Homo sapiens: one gene and its partners. The protein of the gene in region 4 purifies or fractionates together with the protein of the main gene of each other region. This does not show direct contact. Each region holds a gene or a part of one and is shown on either strand. Other genes may lie near its edges. The genes, in order: TGFBRAP1, VPS8, ZNF622, LSG1 and VPS33A.

Region 1 (4,107 bases), on a different chromosome or scaffold from region 4:
CATGACACCTTGCCTCTATTCACACGTATTTGGGATTCACCCCAATCCACTGAAATGAAATAGGGTCAGAATACTCGGGGGGCCAAGCATGGTGACTCACGCCTGTAATCCCAGCATTTTAGGAGGCCAAGGCAGGTGGATCACCTGAGGTCAGGAGTTCAAGACCAGCCTGGCCAACATGGTGAAACTCTGTCTCTATTAAAAATATATATTTTTTAAATTAGCTGGGTGTGGTGGACGGGCACCTGTAATCCCAGCTACTCGGGAGGCTGAGGCAGGAGAATCACTTGGACCCGGGAGGTGGAGGTTGCAGTGAGCCGAGATCACACCATTGCACTCCAGCATAGGCAACAAGAGCGAAATTCCATCTCATAAAAAACAAAACAAAACAACTCAGAGGATTATCATGTGTGTGAACATACCCCTTTCTTCAGGGTGGGAATAGCACCTGGAATTAAAGAACATGAGAAAGTGCTCTGAAATTCAACAGGATAGCTGAAAGACCTGCCATCAACAACAGTGTAGGGGATGAAGCAAAATTTAAAAGGTACGATTTTGTAAGAGTTATGTTCTTTGAATATGCTCAGGGTTAGAAATCCAAGAGTGCAGCCTTATTTAAGAGTATCTGGCTAAAAGGTAAAGTAGATAAGAAGTAATCAGAAGTCTCCCTGGTTGAATTCCTCAGTGCATGATTAATCTGATGGCAACCAATGTCAAGGAGCACCCTAAAATATGCATTGGGTAAATTCAGAAGCAGACACGTTAAAATTTGGTAAAACAATAGCAGAATTTAAGGGGTTGGCAACTCAAGTCCTCTGTAGGTGCTAGGAAAAGCAAGAAGGTACAGATTCTAGAACTCTTTATTTAGACTAGGTATGGTGCGAGTGAAAACCATCACTCCATCAAGGCAATTTTTATTTTAAAAAATTACAGAAAGAACAAAGAACTAAAAGAATTTTAATAAAATGAGCAAGTTTACATTTGTACATTTTGTGTATCTGGGACCCAATCGGGACAAAGGATAAAGTTGCAAGGACAAAGGTTTCTGTGGGAGAGCAAGCAAAAAGCAAGGGCTGCCCCAGTTGCATCATGGGCATCCATTCAGAGCTGGGACCCCGCAGCCACCTGCCTGTGCTCCGGAAGTGAGAAGCACATGTAAGCACGCGTCAGTGAGAGCGTCGCAGTTGAACTCAGCCCAGTGCAACGCAGCCTGAGTGACATCCCTACATTAATACTTGATAGGGAACAGCAGATAAACAGTTCCAAAAACCAAATGGTATTGCCCATAGAATATGAATGTAAACTGAGTTCAGTTCATGCTGTTTTAACCAGAATGGTTCCACTGAACCTAATGAGGGGAAAAAGGTCTGATGGATCTAATTGCTCTATTCGATGGCACAGTTACAAATCAGCAGGCCTGTGAGAAAGAACCATACATTTCTCTCAGAAATATGATTTGAGAAAAGGGCCTTGTAGGAGTGAGAGAAAGGTTAGAGAAAAGTACAGTTTTAACATATGAGACAATTCTTCATACTGTAATAGAATGCTGCTTGTGGTGAAGGATTTGGTAGAGATGGAAAACTGCTCAACTTTAATTCCCATTATTCTAAAGGATGACAAACATTTTAGAGTATTGATCAATGTTCAGTGAAAAAATAAAAATGACTAGTGTTGGCTGGGCGCAGTGGCTCACGCCTGTAATCCCAGCACTTTGGGAGGCCGAGGCAGGCAGATCACGAGGTCAGGAGACCGAGACCATCCTGGCCAACATGGTGAAACCCCGTCTCTACTAAAAATACAAAAATTAGCTGGGCGTGGTGGCATGCACCTGTAGTCCCAGCTACTCGGGAGGCTGAGGCAGCAGAATCGCTTGAACCCAGGAGGTGGAGGTTGCAGTGAGCCGAGATTGCGCCACTGCACTCCAGCCTGGGTGACAGAGTGAGACTCTGTCTGTGTGTTAGGAATGAGAAATTACTAAGTTTTTTCAAGATTTTACCCATTTTGTGTACAGAGAAATAAGCTTTTAATGGCGCAATGTTGCATATACGGGTAACTTGTTCTTTGAGAAATATAAACTCAAACTCACAAGTTGTCATGATAACATATGCAGTAATATGACCATTCTACAACAGAGTCACCCACAGGTAAAACACATGACTGGGCTTTGAGCTCACACCAATTTACACAGCATACAGTTGTGCTACAAGGAGAATTTCTTCATCATTTATTCTTTAGTTAATTGAAACATAGTCAGGAAAAAATGGTGCCAATTCCCCCCAAACAACACATGGATGTTTTTGCTTCTTGACCCACTTAGAGTCCCAAAAGGACAAAAAATACATGGACCAATATTAGTTCACGAAACATGTTTTAAAGAACAGAGAATGAGGTCTTCATCCCACCTCAGTAAGGCTTGGGCTGATGAAGAGAGGGTGTATTCAGGGTCCTCTCTTGTCATATGTACAAGCTGACGCTTGTTTCCCAAGCATGATAGTAGTGGGTAGACTGCCTTTATTGTTAGCCCCTAATAGAATCAGTCAGCACAATGAAGAAATTCCAAAGAGGGCAGTGAAGTGACAACAGCTTCAGCTCGTCATCGATGTTATACAGAAACACAAAAGGAATCCCCGGCCTGTGATGAAGGAGAGGCCGTTGCTGTGTGTTCAGGACACCTCAGAGCAGGCACATAAAGTGCTGGAGGGTGACACAGCCTGTCTGGATGTCCTCGGGAGGGTGTGCCATCCAGGAGGCGACACCCCCATCCAGCACACGGGCCCTTCCACCCGCTGTCGGTCCTGCTAAAGGTACGAGGCTAAAACCGGCCTCTCCAGAAAAGAACGCTCAGTGTGTGCTGACCACACTTCCCTTTGAATTTCCCGAGTATTCAACAGGAGATACATTTTAACAAGAAAAAATACCCCTAACAAACAGGACAGATGACTCTCTCAACAAGAGAGCAACTACGAACATGATACAAATTTAAATAAAAATGTTTAGTTCAACGTGTTCGTCATGGAGTTTCAAATCAGCAGATGCCATGACAGGAAAGGAGCACACAGCTGGGCCCTTGCCCGCCGTGGGTTTCCCGTGTCCGCGGCTTCTTCAAGGAGGGGAGAGCAGCTTCTCTCTTGGAGCGTTCTCAGTTTCTCAACAGATCTTCACTTGCTAGGCAGCCAGAAGCATTAGTTCACCCAAGAGTGAGTGCTTGGGTACACAAGGCAGAATCTTTTGGGAGCTGAGAGCCGGAGAGGAAGAAAGAAGGAACAAAGGTACTTCTCCAGGGTCAGCCGTTTCTGAGGGCAAAGGCAGAGCCCACGAGGTAACCCTGGGAAATGGGCCCATGAGTGAGCGGCGTGGATGGAGAACGTGTTTCTGCAGGAGGGCAAGGCTGACCCCCATGAGGCTCTGTGCCCTCGCCACTCACCCAGGCAAGAGAGGACTTTGTCGCCAGCCATGGTGAAGCCACGTTTCCAGTGCAAACATGAGTCTAAAGGTTGGAGTGTGGGGGTGGTGGGGGATCCCCCACCTGGGTCTGGACTGCATGAGGAAGACTCCCTTTTTTTTTTTTTCAAAGTAGACCTCTGTCTTGGATTACTATGTACCTGGACAGGTGAACTCTTGTATGTTTCTGTTTTGGGGATTTTTAGGGGTTTTCCATGTACATTCATAGAGCCTGGTCATTCCATGTACATTCATAGAGCCTGGTCAGCAGCGAGGAGTCCTTGTTGCGTATGGACGGAAGGCTCCCTGGCACCCAGATGTCTCCCTTCGTCCTGGCTGACACAGAGCATGGTGGTCATCTGCTCTTCATGTCCAGCAGGCTCAGAAAGAACTCGGAGTTCCCCTCGCACCCTTGGGCCAAGCTTTTCAAGTCCGAGTGCCAGGACTGGATGAGCTGGGGTTTGTGTGTCTGCTGGCGGCACAGTGGGTGTGCACAAGACCACCATTTGGGTATCTAACAAACACAGGCTCACAAAAGGGATTTTGGCATATCTGACAAAGCTTTTTGTCTGAGAGTTGGATTGAGCTTCCTTTCAACTTCATCTGCAAGAAGAAACCAAGACTGAGAATGCTGTCATGTGTTAAGTATATTTAAAGTGGCTACGT
Region 2 (4,165 bases), 9.6 Mb from region 4:
GCCCACACCAACTCTCAAAGAAGGAGCACCACTCTTTCCTCCGGCTGCCAAGTAACCTAGTAGGTTCTGCCTAAGAAAGGGGAGTGCGTGAAGGGGGCCCAGGTAGAGAAGCAGAGGACACAGCAGTTTGCACAAGCTCGAGACAAGCTCAGGAACAAATGGGACCACCTAGAATTGAGGTGTGATTTGGGGAGTGAAGAAGATGGTAGGGTTTGGACTCATTCTTTAGGTGGTGGAGATCCAGAATGTGTTATAAGCAAGGGAGTAACATGACATACTTGGTTTTAGAAAGGGTAGCCAGGCAGCAGCATGGAGAGGGGACAGAAGGGTTTCTAGCCAATCAGAAGACCTGCAGTGGCCTCCGTGAGTGATAAGGAGGCCCCACCCGGGGTAGTGGTAAAAGAGGGATTAGTAGACAAGATCCCACAGGATGTCCCCAGTCAGGTGGCAGGAAGGTGAGGAGTGAGCCTAGTGCTGCCAGGTCTCTGCTCTAGGTGGTTGGATGACAGAGGTATCATTCCTGAGGCAGGCACCAGGCATGAAGAACAGGTCGAGAAAGCGATGAGTACATGTCCAAAGTGCCTGGGGGACACCCGGTCTGATGTGGTGGCAGTGACTGATAGAAGCCCTCCAGTCTGTACTCTTCTTCCACAGTTAGATTAGACCAAGAATTGTAGCCCAAGGTCTTTTGGAATAAAAATCAATTTTCCCAGTCTCCATTGCAGTGAGGTATGGTCATGGGTCTAAATTCTAGACAGTGGAGGTAAGTGGAAGCAACCATGTTGAACCATACGAGTTTAAGTCATGTGCTAAGGAAGGCAGAGCAACAGGACAGAAGAAAGCTGAAGGGAGGTACGTGGATGTGCCCTGGCTGGCTGCATTTACACTTCTCTCTTGCTTAAACCACTACTACTTTGCATTTGTCTTTCATGGCCAAAACTAATTCAACCAGTGCAGATGCCCAGGAGGGTCTAGGGCTTCGGACAGATTGGGCACCTATCCATATCCTAAGCAAAGCCCTCCTGGGATCAACCTTCTGGCCTGCTCTCTCTGGAGGGAGGTCAAACACAGAGGCCCTTCTGTGTCCTCACAGCTCATGGTACGTAGGGGACAGACAGCTTTCTACTTCCTTTGCTCTCTTTGCCAAGCTCTGAGTGCTCCTTGGGGCCAGGGTCTGTTGTCCATGTAGCCATAACAGGGATGCCAGGGCACCTTCCAGGCTAGAAGGAGGCTAGAGGGAGGTTCCAAGACACTGCCTGTCTAAAGCAGTAAACTATAAATAGGGAAATAAAAATATAAACAACCACGCAAACATTACCCTGGAGCTTCCTCGGTAGAGACGGCAAAGCTGATCAAATGCTTGGATTTGCTGTGGATCCAGAACAGGTTCTGAGGTTCCCTGAAAAATAAAAACCGATACGATTAACAACATCACGTGGCTAGGCAGCCTCTCAACTTGCTCTACACGATGCTGAAGCATAACATGGTGCTTCCTTCATTCTCCTGAAAACAATCCATGCTACCAGCTATTAGTGAGATATATACTGAACATGAGTTAGAAATCGGCACGTCCCCTAAGATCCCTCCTTGGTGTGGCTGCAGGTTGACCTGTCTGTGGACCCTTTTCCCAATGGAGTCTCCAAATGTCCCGTATGTATAGGTTCCTTTCAGGTTTCTTGATCCCTCTTTGGCACCATTATGCAGAGCTAGTTAGTTCCTTCCAGCCTTGCATTCCCATGTCCATCACTTCATACGGCCAGCAAAGATACCGCTTTTCTCTGTCATGGTAACAGGAGACGCACTGTCATTTAAAAATCTCATCCCTGTCTCATTATAAAGCTGGTCGCCACCTATGGGGTTGCAAGATTCGTCTGCTGCTTTTGGGAAAAGGGCCGGTCTAGCCTGCTCTTACAGCAGCCATGTTTTGTTCCACCTGTTATTGTGGTGGGACCTGCCAAACTGCGGTTCTTCTCTCAGTGGACCTGATCCAGCTCATATGCAGAGAGAAGAAATGGGATCCTGGGGGAGGCGGCCATAAGCTTTGGAGTCAGAGGAGAATCTGGATACTAGTTCTGACAGTAACCTGCTATGTAACTTTAGGCAAGTCACCTCACTTCTCTAAGCCTCAATTGCCTCACCTGTGGGAAGGAAGGGGTAATGCTTACCTTTTGAGATTACCAAAAATTAAATGAGATATATATTTAAAGTGTCGCCTGCCTAGTACCAGGCGAGGGCTCAGTATACGCTAGCTTTTCTTACAATTCAGAGATACCCATAGTTAAAAGTTGATTTCAGAAGTGTTTTTGTTTATGTATAAGATTGGTAAAAGGACGTTTTTCTTTGCCCTATATCATGAACCTGTCCCAAGCGTCTGCACTGCACAGGTTGGTGGGTAAGAGCCTGCACTGCAGAGTTCATCAGCCTAAGCCCAAACCCTGGCTTTAGCAATTACTAGCAGCATAATCTTAGGCAAGTTCTCCGAGTTGGGTACTTTTTGCTTGTTTGTTTGTTTTTGCTCACATGGGGATAATGACTATAGCTACATCACATAAAGTGGCTATGAAGATTCAAGAAGGTAATGCACACAGAACACGTAGCAGATGCACGGGACTCTGCAAGTTCTCACTGAGCGCTACTAACTAGAGAGCACAGGAAGGCCCGCAGGTACTGCGCACAGAGCCAGTCTCCAAGAAGCAACATCATGTGGCCCTCGTCCTGATGTGGCTACAGAAACAGAAAGGAAGGGGACATCAGAGCAACGTGCACAGGCAAAACTGGGTAATGAAGGAGGTTGGGGGATGTGCAGGAGAGGGTATGCCGAGTGTGAGAGGGAAAACTTTATGGAAATGAGAGCTGCTAAGGTCAGCTCCCTCTGTCTTGCTCACCAGTGCCCAGTACTGTGCTTGCACAGAGCAGCCACAGAGTCATCATCTGCTGATCAAATGAAGGGATGGGAGGGCCGGCATGCAGATTTCTGATTTCTTACTATTTATCACTGGCGTTGTGACCAACCCTCGCCATGCAGTAAGAACACAGGGCAGGGCTCTGACACACTTGGGCTCAATCTGGACTCTGCCCAAGACTAGGTGAGTGGCTCTGGGCAAGGAATTTAGCTTCTCTCAGTCTCAGTTTCTTTATCTGTAAAACTCTACTTTGCAGAATTGTTATGAAAATTAGACATAATGTATGGGCTTGGCATCTATTTGATGTTCAATCAATGGCAGTAATTACTGCGATTGTGTTGTTTATACTCCCAGAGAGAAGTGTCCCCCTAGAAAGAACAATGGGATGAAATCAGGAAACATGGGCTCCAATCCTGTTACCAGCTCCCTGTATAACCTGAGGAGGTCACATCTCTCCTCTGAGTCTTTGTTCCAATTGATCAAAGGGCAATGCCACCTCAGGCCACACTCCACCATCCAGGGAAGAGGTGGGCACCATGAGATTAACAGGCATTTAGGGCATGAAAGTTTCAAGAAAAACAGTAATGTTTACTGAGCCTAATCATGGCTTTTATCTTTTACTGCATATTCAGAAGCAAATTAGGGGCAATGTCACAAAGATACATGGCAGCCCTGAAGATAAGTAACAGTTTCCGTCTACAGATGCCAAATTAAGGTCAGACAAAAAATAAAGGGGAAGCAACCAAATATGAACATAATCTCTGTTCACTCCAAAAACATAAAAGTATTCTCAGACCACTAAACCTCCCCAAGGATAAAACTGGTTAGGAGTGATTTTCCAACTGGAAGAGAAGGAAAAATGCATTTGCTGCTGTCTGTTAGAGCAAATTTCTTTCTTCCCATGTAACAAAGTCCAGTGTTAAGAGCTAAAAATTAAACTGTAGTGAATACGAGAGGAAGAAACAGTGGCAACCCTGGAAATGACCTTGTAGTACTCAGCATTAAAGGAAATCCTGTGGAAAACGAGGTCCTGATGATCTCTGAGAGCCCCAGGGAGAGGGGTGTTGGGCTAACATGGGGTGCCAGCACATTGCAAAGCTCAGTGACTCACAGATGTGGAAGTGGGAGCAGTAACTACATCCGCTGGAAGGAAGAAAACAAATCAGGGCTTTCAGGATCCACAGACCTCTTTTTTTTTTTTTTTTTTTTAGACGGAGTCTTGCTCTGTCACCCAGGCTGGAGTGCAGTGGCGTGATCTCAGC
Region 3 (2,391 bases), on a different chromosome or scaffold from region 4:
AGTCTTTCTAAAATGATACCTAAGCATTTTACCTTTACTTTCCTCCTAGACTAACTGCACCACTGGAAACTGCATCAGACTACACAGTAGTCACTCTGTGCAGTCATGTTTAGAAATATAAAACCTTTACAGCAAGCTATTGATGTGCTTTTTAACTTAGCCTGGATTTAATGCAAGCGCCCAGAGATATTCAGTACCTCCTGTACCATGATACATTCCATGAGTGACATTCAACTTTGCCCCTACATAAGCCTTCAAGCCCCCTTACATAGGTCCCAGTGCCATGACATGGTGAGTTACTCTCAAAGTTAAACTAAGTTTGGGGCACACAAGTCATTCCTGATTCCTCACATTACTCTGACAATCATAAATCATTTAAAGCTGAGGCGATGAAGCAACTGTCAGGCAGCAGTGCAAGTCCCAGGGTCCAGTAGACACAGGACTTACCTTGTGAAAACATAACCTTTCAACACTATTCAAAAACGACATCTGAAAACTCATATGGTTCTAACTTTTATTATTAGGTCAGAACGAATGAAGTAGCAGCAAAAGGGTCTCTCCTATGATCTGTCTTTCACTGGTCCTCAGGGCAAGGAGGAAACTTGGGCAGGAGATGATTGCTCAATCCCAGCAGACTCTCAGAATCTCACTTGGACCCGAAAGTGCATCTGCTTGGTGGCATTGTTCTTCATTCCTGTCTTCAGCATCCATTTTGATTTCATCCTTTGGACATACTGCATGTCTCGCTCTCGCATAAGAGCCGCTCCTATGATTGGAAGGCAGTTAAGAAATTAGGCAAAGTTCTGTTATTTGTGATCAGAGAAAATCCAACCTTGGCAGAGAATTCAAAAGGTTAGTTTGGGGTAACTAGGTTCTTGTATTTAAAACAGAGTTGCTAACTTGGGGTCTCTAAGCCATGCGCCTCAGGGGTCTCTGTGGACTCCAGAATTGCATACCAGAACTTTTGTATATATACACTTATCTGGGATTAGTAGCTTTAGTTTTCATCATCTGGAAGAGTTTATAAGCCCAAAAGGTAAAGCCCCATTAATCAGAAAGGCAGAAGCTATATATCGAGTCAGACAATACTTCCTGATAAGAGTAAGATGAAGTCAAGTCTCTGCCAGATTCAAGTGGCCACACAGCTCACAAGCAGCCACAGTGAAGGAAACCACATATAAACACAGTGCCTTTTCAAATGGATTTTAGTTGCCTAGAGCTTCCCAGGCCATCAGAAGGCAGCCCGCCTCTTATTTTCTCCACAGTCCTCAGTTGGATAGATGCTTTCCCTGAAGATCTAAGGATATAACCAGCTTCATCCAGCAGACACATCAGAATAGATGTAAAGAGTACCATACTGATGAGGTTTCAAAACTCAACAATTGCAGTGGCATGCTTTACTCTTCTAACTTTTGCTAAATTTTCTATGGGAAAATTACAAAAAAGGGGACTGATAGCTAACCTCGACTATGGGCATGCACTATATCACACATGCATGACATTCAACCCACTCAACTCTAAGAGGTAGGTCTTATTACTATCATCTCTGTTTTATAAATGAGGAAACAGAAGCTTATATTAATTAAATTACTCATGTTCATCATATAAGAACCTCTAAGTACATCACATAAGTCACGTCTGACTCCACAGCTCAAGCTATTAACCACTAGGATACTATCTAATTCCTCTGCATAACCTCCAGGATAATTTCAACCTTTGGTGATTACTAAATAATTCTTTTTGTAACTATTATCTTCTGAAAAAGTTAATGGTATATAAAATCACTGTGCCAGGAATATGAAATTTCTAAGTCATAGCACTTTGGGCTTATTGCCTTAAACATATCAAGTGGTAATGGAAGTCCCTGGAGCCAAGACGTTACGTTTCCCCTAGAGAGAATCCACATGGACAACATAAATGGAAACAACTTTCCCCAGACCCCTTCTAGAAATACAAGTTCTCAGACTGGTCTGTAGTTGTAAAGATCAATGTACCTGTGCTGCCAGTCCATCCCAGGGCTCTGTACTGCTGAAGTACTCGGCCCACGGCCTTCCGATTTTTGGCAACTGCCACAGCTCTTGACAAGCCAAATCGCTGTTTGTAGTATCTCATCAAGGAGCGATGACCCACTCTGGCACCTGTTTTTCAAAAGAGCAATACTGAAACACTGAGTTGGATAGTTTTTTCAAGGCAGAGCTATAAAGCAAGGGCTTTCCAAATCAGATCTTTTAGTATATCTAGATGGAAAATCGATGTACCAGAAGAAACAGTTGTTCTATCTACTAAAGACAGATGAAGCAGCATGTAAAATAAAAATAAAAAGTGAAAGAAAGCAAGCATGCAACAAAAAGAAAACCAAACAATAGATTTTTTAAAAAGAAAATGACAAGT
Region 4 (4,196 bases):
AAACTGAACACAGATGGTTACCTCTGCTCCCTCTCAAAACCTACAAAAACAAAGGCTGAAACCCATTAGGATAAAGAGAAAGAACAGCAGCAACCAAATGTCAAACCAACAAGAAGCAAACCTGTTCATGCCCCTGACGCCCAAGAAAGCCCAGTATTAGAAACATCAGCTCTATCTCTCCAGGGCAAGAACGAGGCCCGCGCCCGTAATCCATCTGAACAGTGAGCTCATAGGTCGGCTACCCTGTTCCATTCAGTGAGGCAACTGCAACCCACCACACAGCCCCCATTCCCCACCCCAATAGCAGAAGGCTAGGGTTTATTATGGAGAAAATGAACTTGACAAGTTCCAGGACTGGGACCTCAGGCACAGGGAAAATGGGAAAGAGTTGCCATAGGGCAAAAAGGGGAATTCAGCATAAGCCTATGAAGATACTGAACTGTGAAGGTGCCCAGCACCCTTGTATTATACCACCTCCTGCCCCTTTCCTGGCAGGAGATCATTCTTCTTTTTAAAAACTGACTGGCACTGGGCACAGTGGCTCATGCCTGTAACCCCAGCACTTTGGGAGGCTGAAGTGGGTGGATCACCTGAGGTCAGGAGTTCGAGACCAGCCTGGCCAACATGGAGAAACCCCGTCTCTACTAAAAATACAAAATTAGCCGGGCGTGGTGGCGCGTGCCTGTAATCCCAGCTACTCGGGAGGCTGAGGCAGGAAAATCGCTTGAACCCAGGAGGTGGAGATTGCAGTGAGCCGAGATCACGCCACTGCACTCCAGCCTGGGTAACAAGAGCGAAAGTCCGTCTCAAAAAACAAAACAAAACCACACACACACAAAACTGACTGGCTCTGGGGAAAAGACCTACAGATCTTAACATCTTGGGGTATTCCAACAAAATAAAACTGACCCCTGCCCAGGCACCCTACAGTGAAGCTCACCAGTTGGCAAATTCCACCTAAACAGGCAGGCTTGTCAACCGGCTTTGTAATGCTTTGTTCTTAAAGACAGATAAACACCACTAGACACCTGAGGAAGGCCTCTTCCGTAAAAGTCAGAAACCAGGAGAAAAAGAAAAGGAACAAAGAGGAAAGACAGATAATATAGGAAGTAGGACAAAATCTGAAAACAAAACAAAAACTGTAATTAAGTGTGAAGATGGAGGGTGCTGTCCTCAAGGTCCGGGCTGCAGTACTTCTGCACTTGTTACCATTTCTCTTCGGAAATTAGAAAACGGGCATTCTCAGGAGTACACAGCATCAACTACCAAGGAGGCACCAACGAAGAGGCTACTCTGCTCCACAGCAGTTCCCCAGTTCCCCAGGAGAATGACTGTGGGCCTTCCGAAGCCCTCCTCAAGCTTGAGTAAAAGGAGCCTGCATGGACCCCAAATCAGCAGAAACCCTTTCCCTTCTTCCGCCTCAGAGAAAGCCTTTCCCTTCTTCCGCCTCAGAGAAAGCCTTTCCCTTCTTCCGCCTCAGAGAAAGCCTTTCCCTTCTTCCGCCTCAGAGAAAGCCTTTCCCTTCTTCCGCCTCAGAGAAAGCCTTTCCCTTCTTCCGCCTCAGAGAAAGCCTTTCCCTTCTTCCGCCTCAGAGAAAGCCTTTCCCTTCTTCCGCCTCAGAGAAAGCCTTTCCCTTCTTCCGCCTCAGAGAAAGCCTTTCCCTTCTTCCGCCTCAGAGAAAGCCTTTCCCTTCTTCCGCCTCAGAGAAAGCCTTTCCCTTCTTCCGCCTCAGAGAAAGCCTTTCCCTTCTTCCGCCTCAGAGAAAGCCTTTCCCTTCTTCCGCCTCAGAGAAAGCCTTTCCCTTCTTCCGCCTCAGAGAAAGCCTTTCCCTTCTTCTGCCTCAGAGAAAGCCTTTCCCTTCTTCTGCCTTAGAGATTTGCCTTGCTTCTCTGACCTCCCCGCATCCCAGCCCAAGAGCCCTTTCTGTACCCGTAGAGAGCTGAGGATGGGGGCATTCAAGTGACTTTGTCATCACCCTAATAGGAAATGTAAGTGACTTTTACAAGTTTAGTCCAAGTACTGTTTTCTTTTTTTTGGAGACAGAGTCTTGCTCTGTCACCCAGGCTGGAGTGCAGTGGTGCGATCTCGGCTCACTGCAACCTCCACCTCCTGGATTCAAGTGATTCTCCTGCCTCAGCTTCCCAAGTAGTAGCCAAGCCTGGCTATTTTTGTATTTTTAGTAGGGACAGGGTTTCACCACGTTCCTCAGGCTGGTATCGAACTGCTGACTTCAAGTGATCCACCTGCCTGGACCTCCTAAAGTGCTGGGATCACAGGTGTGAGCCACCGCGCTGGGCCCTGTTTTCTTAATAACAATGCTAAATGTGATAAGATTCTTTTCTGAGAATCCCAATTAAAGCATTCTGTTTCCTAGTGTTCTTACTAGGTTCACTTTATAGATTTCAAAGGAAAAAAAACCAGCCTGAAGGGTCCTTGTTGAAAACATTTCAAATATAAGGTTCATTTATGGCATCCTTGAAAGTAATTCAGAAACTCTTTGAGGAAAACAGAAACCTTTTAACTATACCAAAGAGGTGAGATTAGAGACAGGTGTTCATCAACTTCTAACAATCAGGAATTCTCCTTAGCATTACATGAAAAAGAATAAAGATCTCCCATTCTCAATTTGTCAAAATCATTCTCTTCTTTTCAGAGCCCAGTTAAAAAAAATAAAAACCAGGCCGGGCATGGTGGCTCATGCCTGTAATCCTAGCACTTTGGGAGGCTGAGGCGGGTGGATCACGAGGTCAGGAGTTCGAGACCAGCCTGACCAACATGGTGAAACCCTGTCTCTACTAAAAATACAAAAAAAAAAATTAGCTGGGCGTGGTGGTGTGCGCCTGTAATCTCAGCCACTTGGGAGGCTGAGGCGGGAGCACTGCTTGAACCCAGGAGGCGGAGGTTGTGGTGAGCTGAGATCGTGCCATTGCACTCCAGCCTGGGCAATAAGAGCAAAACTCCGTCTCAAATAAATAAATAAATAAATAAATAAATAAAAAACATAAAAACCACCCCGTGATTTCCTCAATACTTATCAACCACTCCTTCCTCTGCTATGACTCAGCCCACTGCCTTTCTATCTGCAGCAAAGCAGGAATCATACTGCCCTCTGTATTTCACTACGTATTAAGTTTTCTGAGTGCAAGAATTGCATGTCATTCATCTGTGTGTCCCTGGTGCCTGGTGCTTTGCTTAGCATTTAGCTGAACATGGTGTAACTCGGCTGACAGGAGCTCTGACATTCGCCTCTCCCCATAACATAGATGCTCTTTGCAGGCAGGAACTTAACTCTTTTTCGTATCCATATTTTCCACATTACCAGTAGAAACCAAATATACATTTGCTAAAATATCTATATAGGTGCTTCAGAATTCACCTTGCAGAAAATGTTCATTATTCTCACACACTTATCAACATATTCATCTAACAACAAAAAAACTATACAAAATATACGGTAGTATCATGCTGTGTTTTTATAATTCTCAGTAACCCTCTGCATAGCTTAATTCCCATACCCTGAGCCTATAAGCCTATATCAACAGCCAAATCGAATATAACTTCACTACAATGTCTTTATTACACAAAAGAAAATGATAATTCACCTTCTCTCAATGACTCTCCAGAGCTGGCGCCAAAAGTCCAAATTTCGTTCAAATGGAGTCAATATCAGCTTCTGTTCCTCTTCTAGCCTAGTTTTTGAATGAGAAGTTTATATATTTGCCAGATTATAATAGACAATTTTTAGCAGTGTAAATGCTCAAATTTATTACATTAAAAATAAGTACTGGGCACAAATATCCAGAGTCAAATTATTTTATATATTTCCTGCTGAGACACCATAAAAATACTATTTATTTAGACAATACTCCACCAAATTCAAATTTTATCCTGAAGCTATTTATGCCCTGGAAGTTTACCTATCACACAAAGTCATTTCTTTCCCACACTCTTACTGGAAAAATGTGCAGGAGAGCAGCGATCAACTCCAGGATGCCCAATGGCCAAAGAAGGGAATGAAAGGAAAAGGCCCGGAACTGAGCAGAGTAACCAACTCACGATCTCTGTGCAAGGATGCATTTGCACCTAGCAATCTTGTTTGTGCATACATCTATTTGCACTTGTTAGCAGAATGCTACCATTTCCTTCTTAAAAGAATCAAAACTTCAAAACACAAATGGCTGTGTAAGCATGCCAAA
Region 5 (4,196 bases), on a different chromosome or scaffold from region 4:
TAACAAATTTTAAATTATTCACTTTATGAAAATTCCTAACATAAAACAATTACTGATACTTTTTGCTAGATTAGTTGTTGATACTATTGAAATGGAGTAGACATCTGGTAGCCTCTCAGAAGCGTGTCCTTAGAGACAGACGTGTCCAGACAGGCATATGGAGTGACCAATTGTATTCTCAGCGGCCTTGGGCTCCAGTGACTTGGCCTGATCACTGGGGGGTGTGTGTGTGTGTGTGTGTGTGTGTATGTATGTATGTGTGTGTGGGGTGTGTGTGTGTGTGTGGTGGCCAGGGTGTGTGTGTGGCTGGGGCTAGCAGAGCTATTTCGGGGAAGGGTTAGGGACTGTGGAAAAATAACTCATTTTCCCACGTATCTCCTTTATTGGACTTTGAAAAATAATAATAAACATCAAGTTAAGTTCCTAAACCATGTATTGTGTGTGTGTGTGTGTGTGTGTGTGTGTGTGTGTGTATGTATATGTAAATGTATATGTATATGTATGCTACTTTATTTCCAGGTCAACAATTACATTGAGGATTGTATCGCCCAAAAGCACTCGTTGATCAAGGTGTTAAGACTAGTTTGCCTCCAATCCGTGTGTAATAGTGGGCTCAAACAAAAAGTTTTGGATTATTACAAAAGAGAGATTCTCCAGGTGAGTATATTTTTAAATTATTAATTTGCCAAGGGGGACAGCATCTTTTTAAAAAATACTTCATGGGCCGGGCACAGTGGCTTACGCCTGTAATCCCAGCACTTTGGGAGGCCAAAGCAGGTGGATCACTTGAGGTTAGGAGTTTGAGACCAGCCTGGCCAACATGGTGAAACCCCCATCTCTATTAAAAATACAAAAATTAGCCAGGCATGGTAGCATGCACCTGTAGTCCCAGCTATTTGAGAGGATCAGGCAGGAGAATCGCTTGAACGCAGGAGGCGGAGGTTACAGTGTGTCAAGATCATGCCCCTGCACTCCAGCCTGGGCAACAGAGTGAGACTCTGTCTCAAAAAATAATAATAAAAAATTTAAAATTAAAAAAAATAAAAATTACAAAGCTGCCATTTTGGTATCTTGTAACGACTGTTGTATAAATTTTTTAACACCTAGAGGAATTGGTCTTGGTAGCCATCACTGTTTATTGTATTTGTGTGATAATAATAGCTAACAGGCTGGGCACAGTGGCTCACCTCTGTTATCTCAATATTTTGTGGGGCTGAGGCAGGAGGATCGCTGGAGGCCAAGACCAGCCTGGCAACATAGCAAGACCCTGTCTCTACAAAAAAAATACAAAAATTTACCAGGCATGGTGGCTGTGTCTGCAGTCCCAGCTACCCAGGAGGCTGAGTTAGGAGGATTGCTTGAGCCCAGGAGTCCAAAACCAGCCTAGGCAACATAGCTTGTTTACAAAAAGTAAAAAATAATAATAATAGGTAACATTTCTTGAGCATTTACTATGTGCTAGGATCTATTGGAAAAACTTTATAGGCCGGGCGCGGTGGCTCTGTACCCTGACTCTACTAAAAATACAAAAAATTAGCCGGGCGCGGTGGCGGGCGCCTGTAGTCCCAGCTACTCGGGAGGCTGAGGCAGGAGAATGGCGTGAACCCGGGAGGCGGAGCTTGCAGTGAGCCGAGATTGCGCCACTGCAGTCCGCAGTCCGGCCTGGGCGACAGAGCGAGACTCCGTCTCAAAAAAAAAAAAAAAAAAAAGAAAAACTTTATGTGCATTCATTTGTTTCATCTTCACAATACTTCCTTGTTAACTGTAGTTACCATAACAACAACAACAAATATTCACAACAGCCTTGTGAGTTAGAGACTGCTATCGTCCCAGTTTTATGGATGAAAAACTGAGGCACAGACTAGTTTAGGTAACTCACCCAAGGTTACCTGGCTGGTAAGTGGCACAGCCAGTGGTAAACCAGGCAATTTGAGTGTAGCGCCCATGTTCTTAACTCCGCAGTTATACCACGGAGGAAAAGAACTTTCTGCAAATTTCTGATGACAGTTGCTTAGCAGGTTTACTTAAATTAAGCCTGTGTTACTTATAATAAGGAAAAGGCCACTCTTGTTTTTGAAAAGTCTCCCCTTTGTTTGAAAATGACTCAGGTAGTATTTATTTGCTGTTACCAGTGACAGTTAAGTACATTTTTATTAAAATTGAGTGCTCATTAATTTTTTGTTTTTGTCTTTTTTTAAGTTATGTATCCTTGTGTAAGAGTCAAATAATGCAGAAGTACACAGAGCAAAATGTGAACGTCCCCTGTACCTTGCTCATACCCCAGTTTCCCTCCCCAGATGTGACCAGTGTCAGCAGTCTGATTTGCTTCCTTCCAAACTCCATTCTTTGCATTTAGACAGAATGTTTCCATACACAGACTTCAGAGCAAGACTGGCTGGATCCAGGTTTCAGCTCTGCTCTTCACTAGCTGTGTGACTTTAGGCAGGTTATTTAAACATCTCTGTAAAATGAAGGTAATGATACCTACGTCATGGGGTTAGAGCCGGGATGACTGAGTTAATGTATGTAAGTGCTTAGACCAGAACAGTGCCCAGCTCATAGAAAGTATTTTATAAGTGTTGGCTACTTTTTAAAATTTATTTATTTTTTGAGACAGTATCTCACCCTGTTGCCCAGAGTGGAGTGCAGTGGCACAATCTTGGCTCACTGTAACCTCCTGGGTTCAAGCGATTCTCCTGCCTCAGCCTCCCGAGTAGCTGGGATTACAGGTACATGCCACCAGGCCCAGCTAATTTTTTAATTTTTAGTAGAGACAGGGTTTCACCATGTTGGCCAGGCTGGTCTCAAACTCCTGACTTCAAGTGATTGGCCCGCCTCGGCCTCCCAAAGTACTGGGATTACAGGTGTGAGCCAGCATGCCCAGACCTTGGCTACTTTTTAAAAATAGAAATAATGTCCTACTCTACATGTTATTTTTTTTTTAATATATTCTGGAGACCTTTCTTATCAGGATGTATACATATGCCTTACTCTTTTTTAGAGCTAATTATATCCCTTATAAAAATATACTATCATTTATTTGATGCTTGCTTAGATTGGGTCCATAAATTCTGACTTTAAAGTAAAAATTTTAAATTTCTCTTTGAAACAGTGAGCTGAATTAATAGTAACAGGCAAGCAGTTTTAGGACAAGTTTCATCCCTCCACCCTGTCCTCTGTGCCCATCCACTAACATTGCTGGACTTTGGTAACATGTCCTGCAGTACAAACCAAATTGATTTGTTGGAAGTGCCCTTCTTTGAAAATTGCAGAAATCCTTTTCCTGATCTGACATCAAGGCCAAATGACTTCCCTTGCAGACATACGGCTATGAGCACATATTGACCTTACACAACCTGGAGAAGGCCGGCCTGCTGAAACCGCAGACGGGGGGCAGAAACAATTACCCAACTATACGGAAAACATTACGCCTCTGGATGGATGATGTTAATGAGCAAGTAAGCCACACTTCTCCACCTCGTCTCAGCTTAGGGACTGGTTAGATCGTCCAGGTGACAACACATGCTTCTGAACCTACACATCTGCCTTGCTTTCTGAAAACAATTTTCTAATGTTTTTGAAAAAGTAATGTATGCATGTATTGTATCCATCAGAATCCTAGAAGGACACAGAGAATGCTCTTAAACTGGGGAGTTTCTGGAGAGTTTAATAAAGATGTGGGCTGGGCGCGGTGGCTCACACCTATAATCCCAGCACTTTGGGAGGCCGAGGCGGGCAGATCACTTGAGCTCAGGAGTTTGAGAACAGCCTGACTAACATGGGAAACCCCATCTCTACTAAAAATACAAAAATTAGCCCAGCATTGTGGTGCGTGCCTGTAATCCCATCTACTTGGGGGGCTGAGGCAGGAGAATTGCTTGAACCTGGGAGGCGGAGGTTGTAGTGAGCTCAGATCATGCCATTGCACTCCAGCCTGGGCGACAGAGCAAGACTCTGTCTCAAAAAAAAAAAAAAAAAAGTTATGGGGCAGGCTCGGTGGCTCATTCTTGTAATCCCAGTATATTGGGAGGCTGAAGGGTCAGATCGCTTGAGTCCAGGAGTTCGAGACCAGCCTGGGCAACATGGCAAAACCTTGTCTCTACAAAAAAAATGGCCAGTGGTAGTATGAGCCTTTAGTCCGAGGGGCTGTGGTTAGAGGATCACTGAGCCCAGGAGGCGGTTGCAGTGAACCATGT

The links.
Region 1: the proteins of LSG1 (region 4) and TGFBRAP1 purify together in Homo sapiens (co-immunoprecipitation; one large-scale study listed by IntAct). This does not show direct contact.
Region 2: the proteins of LSG1 (region 4) and VPS8 purify together in Homo sapiens (co-immunoprecipitation; one large-scale study listed by IntAct). This does not show direct contact.
Region 3: the proteins of LSG1 (region 4) and ZNF622 purify together in Homo sapiens (affinity purification with western blotting; one study listed by BioGRID). This does not show direct contact.
Region 5: the proteins of LSG1 (region 4) and VPS33A purify together in Homo sapiens (co-immunoprecipitation; one large-scale study listed by IntAct). This does not show direct contact.

Annotation. Positions count from the first base shown.
Region 1 is NC_000002.12:105,263,516-105,267,622, forward strand, and holds the end of TGFBRAP1 (transforming growth factor-beta receptor-associated protein 1), read right to left. Parts: intron 4,045-4,107; coding exon 3,868-4,044; 3' UTR 899-3,867; downstream 1-898. UniProt on the Homo sapiens protein: Plays a role in the TGF-beta/activin signaling pathway. It associates with inactive heteromeric TGF-beta and activin receptor complexes, mainly through the type II receptor, and is released upon activation of signaling.
Region 2 is NC_000003.12:185,045,713-185,049,877, reverse strand, and holds part of VPS8 (vacuolar protein sorting-associated protein 8 homolog), read right to left. Parts: intron 1,400-4,165; coding exon 1,319-1,399; intron 1-1,318. UniProt on the Homo sapiens protein: Plays a role in vesicle-mediated protein trafficking of the endocytic membrane transport pathway.
Region 3 is NC_000005.10:16,451,019-16,453,409, forward strand, and holds the end of ZNF622 (cytoplasmic 60S subunit biogenesis factor ZNF622), read right to left. Parts: intron 2,139-2,391; coding exon 1,995-2,138; intron 767-1,994; coding exon 639-766; 3' UTR 501-638; downstream 1-500. UniProt on the Homo sapiens protein: Pre-60S-associated cytoplasmic factor involved in the cytoplasmic maturation of the 60S subunit.
Region 4 is NC_000003.12:194,661,955-194,666,150, forward strand, and holds part of LSG1 (large subunit GTPase 1 homolog), read right to left. Parts: intron 3,690-4,196; coding exon 3,603-3,689; intron 1-3,602. UniProt on the Homo sapiens protein: Functions as a GTPase. May act by mediating the release of NMD3 from the 60S ribosomal subunit after export into the cytoplasm during the 60S ribosomal subunit maturation.
Region 5 is NC_000012.12:122,235,048-122,239,243, reverse strand, and holds part of VPS33A (vacuolar protein sorting-associated protein 33A), read left to right. Parts: intron 1-519; coding exon 520-657; intron 658-3,320; coding exon 3,321-3,458; intron 3,459-4,196.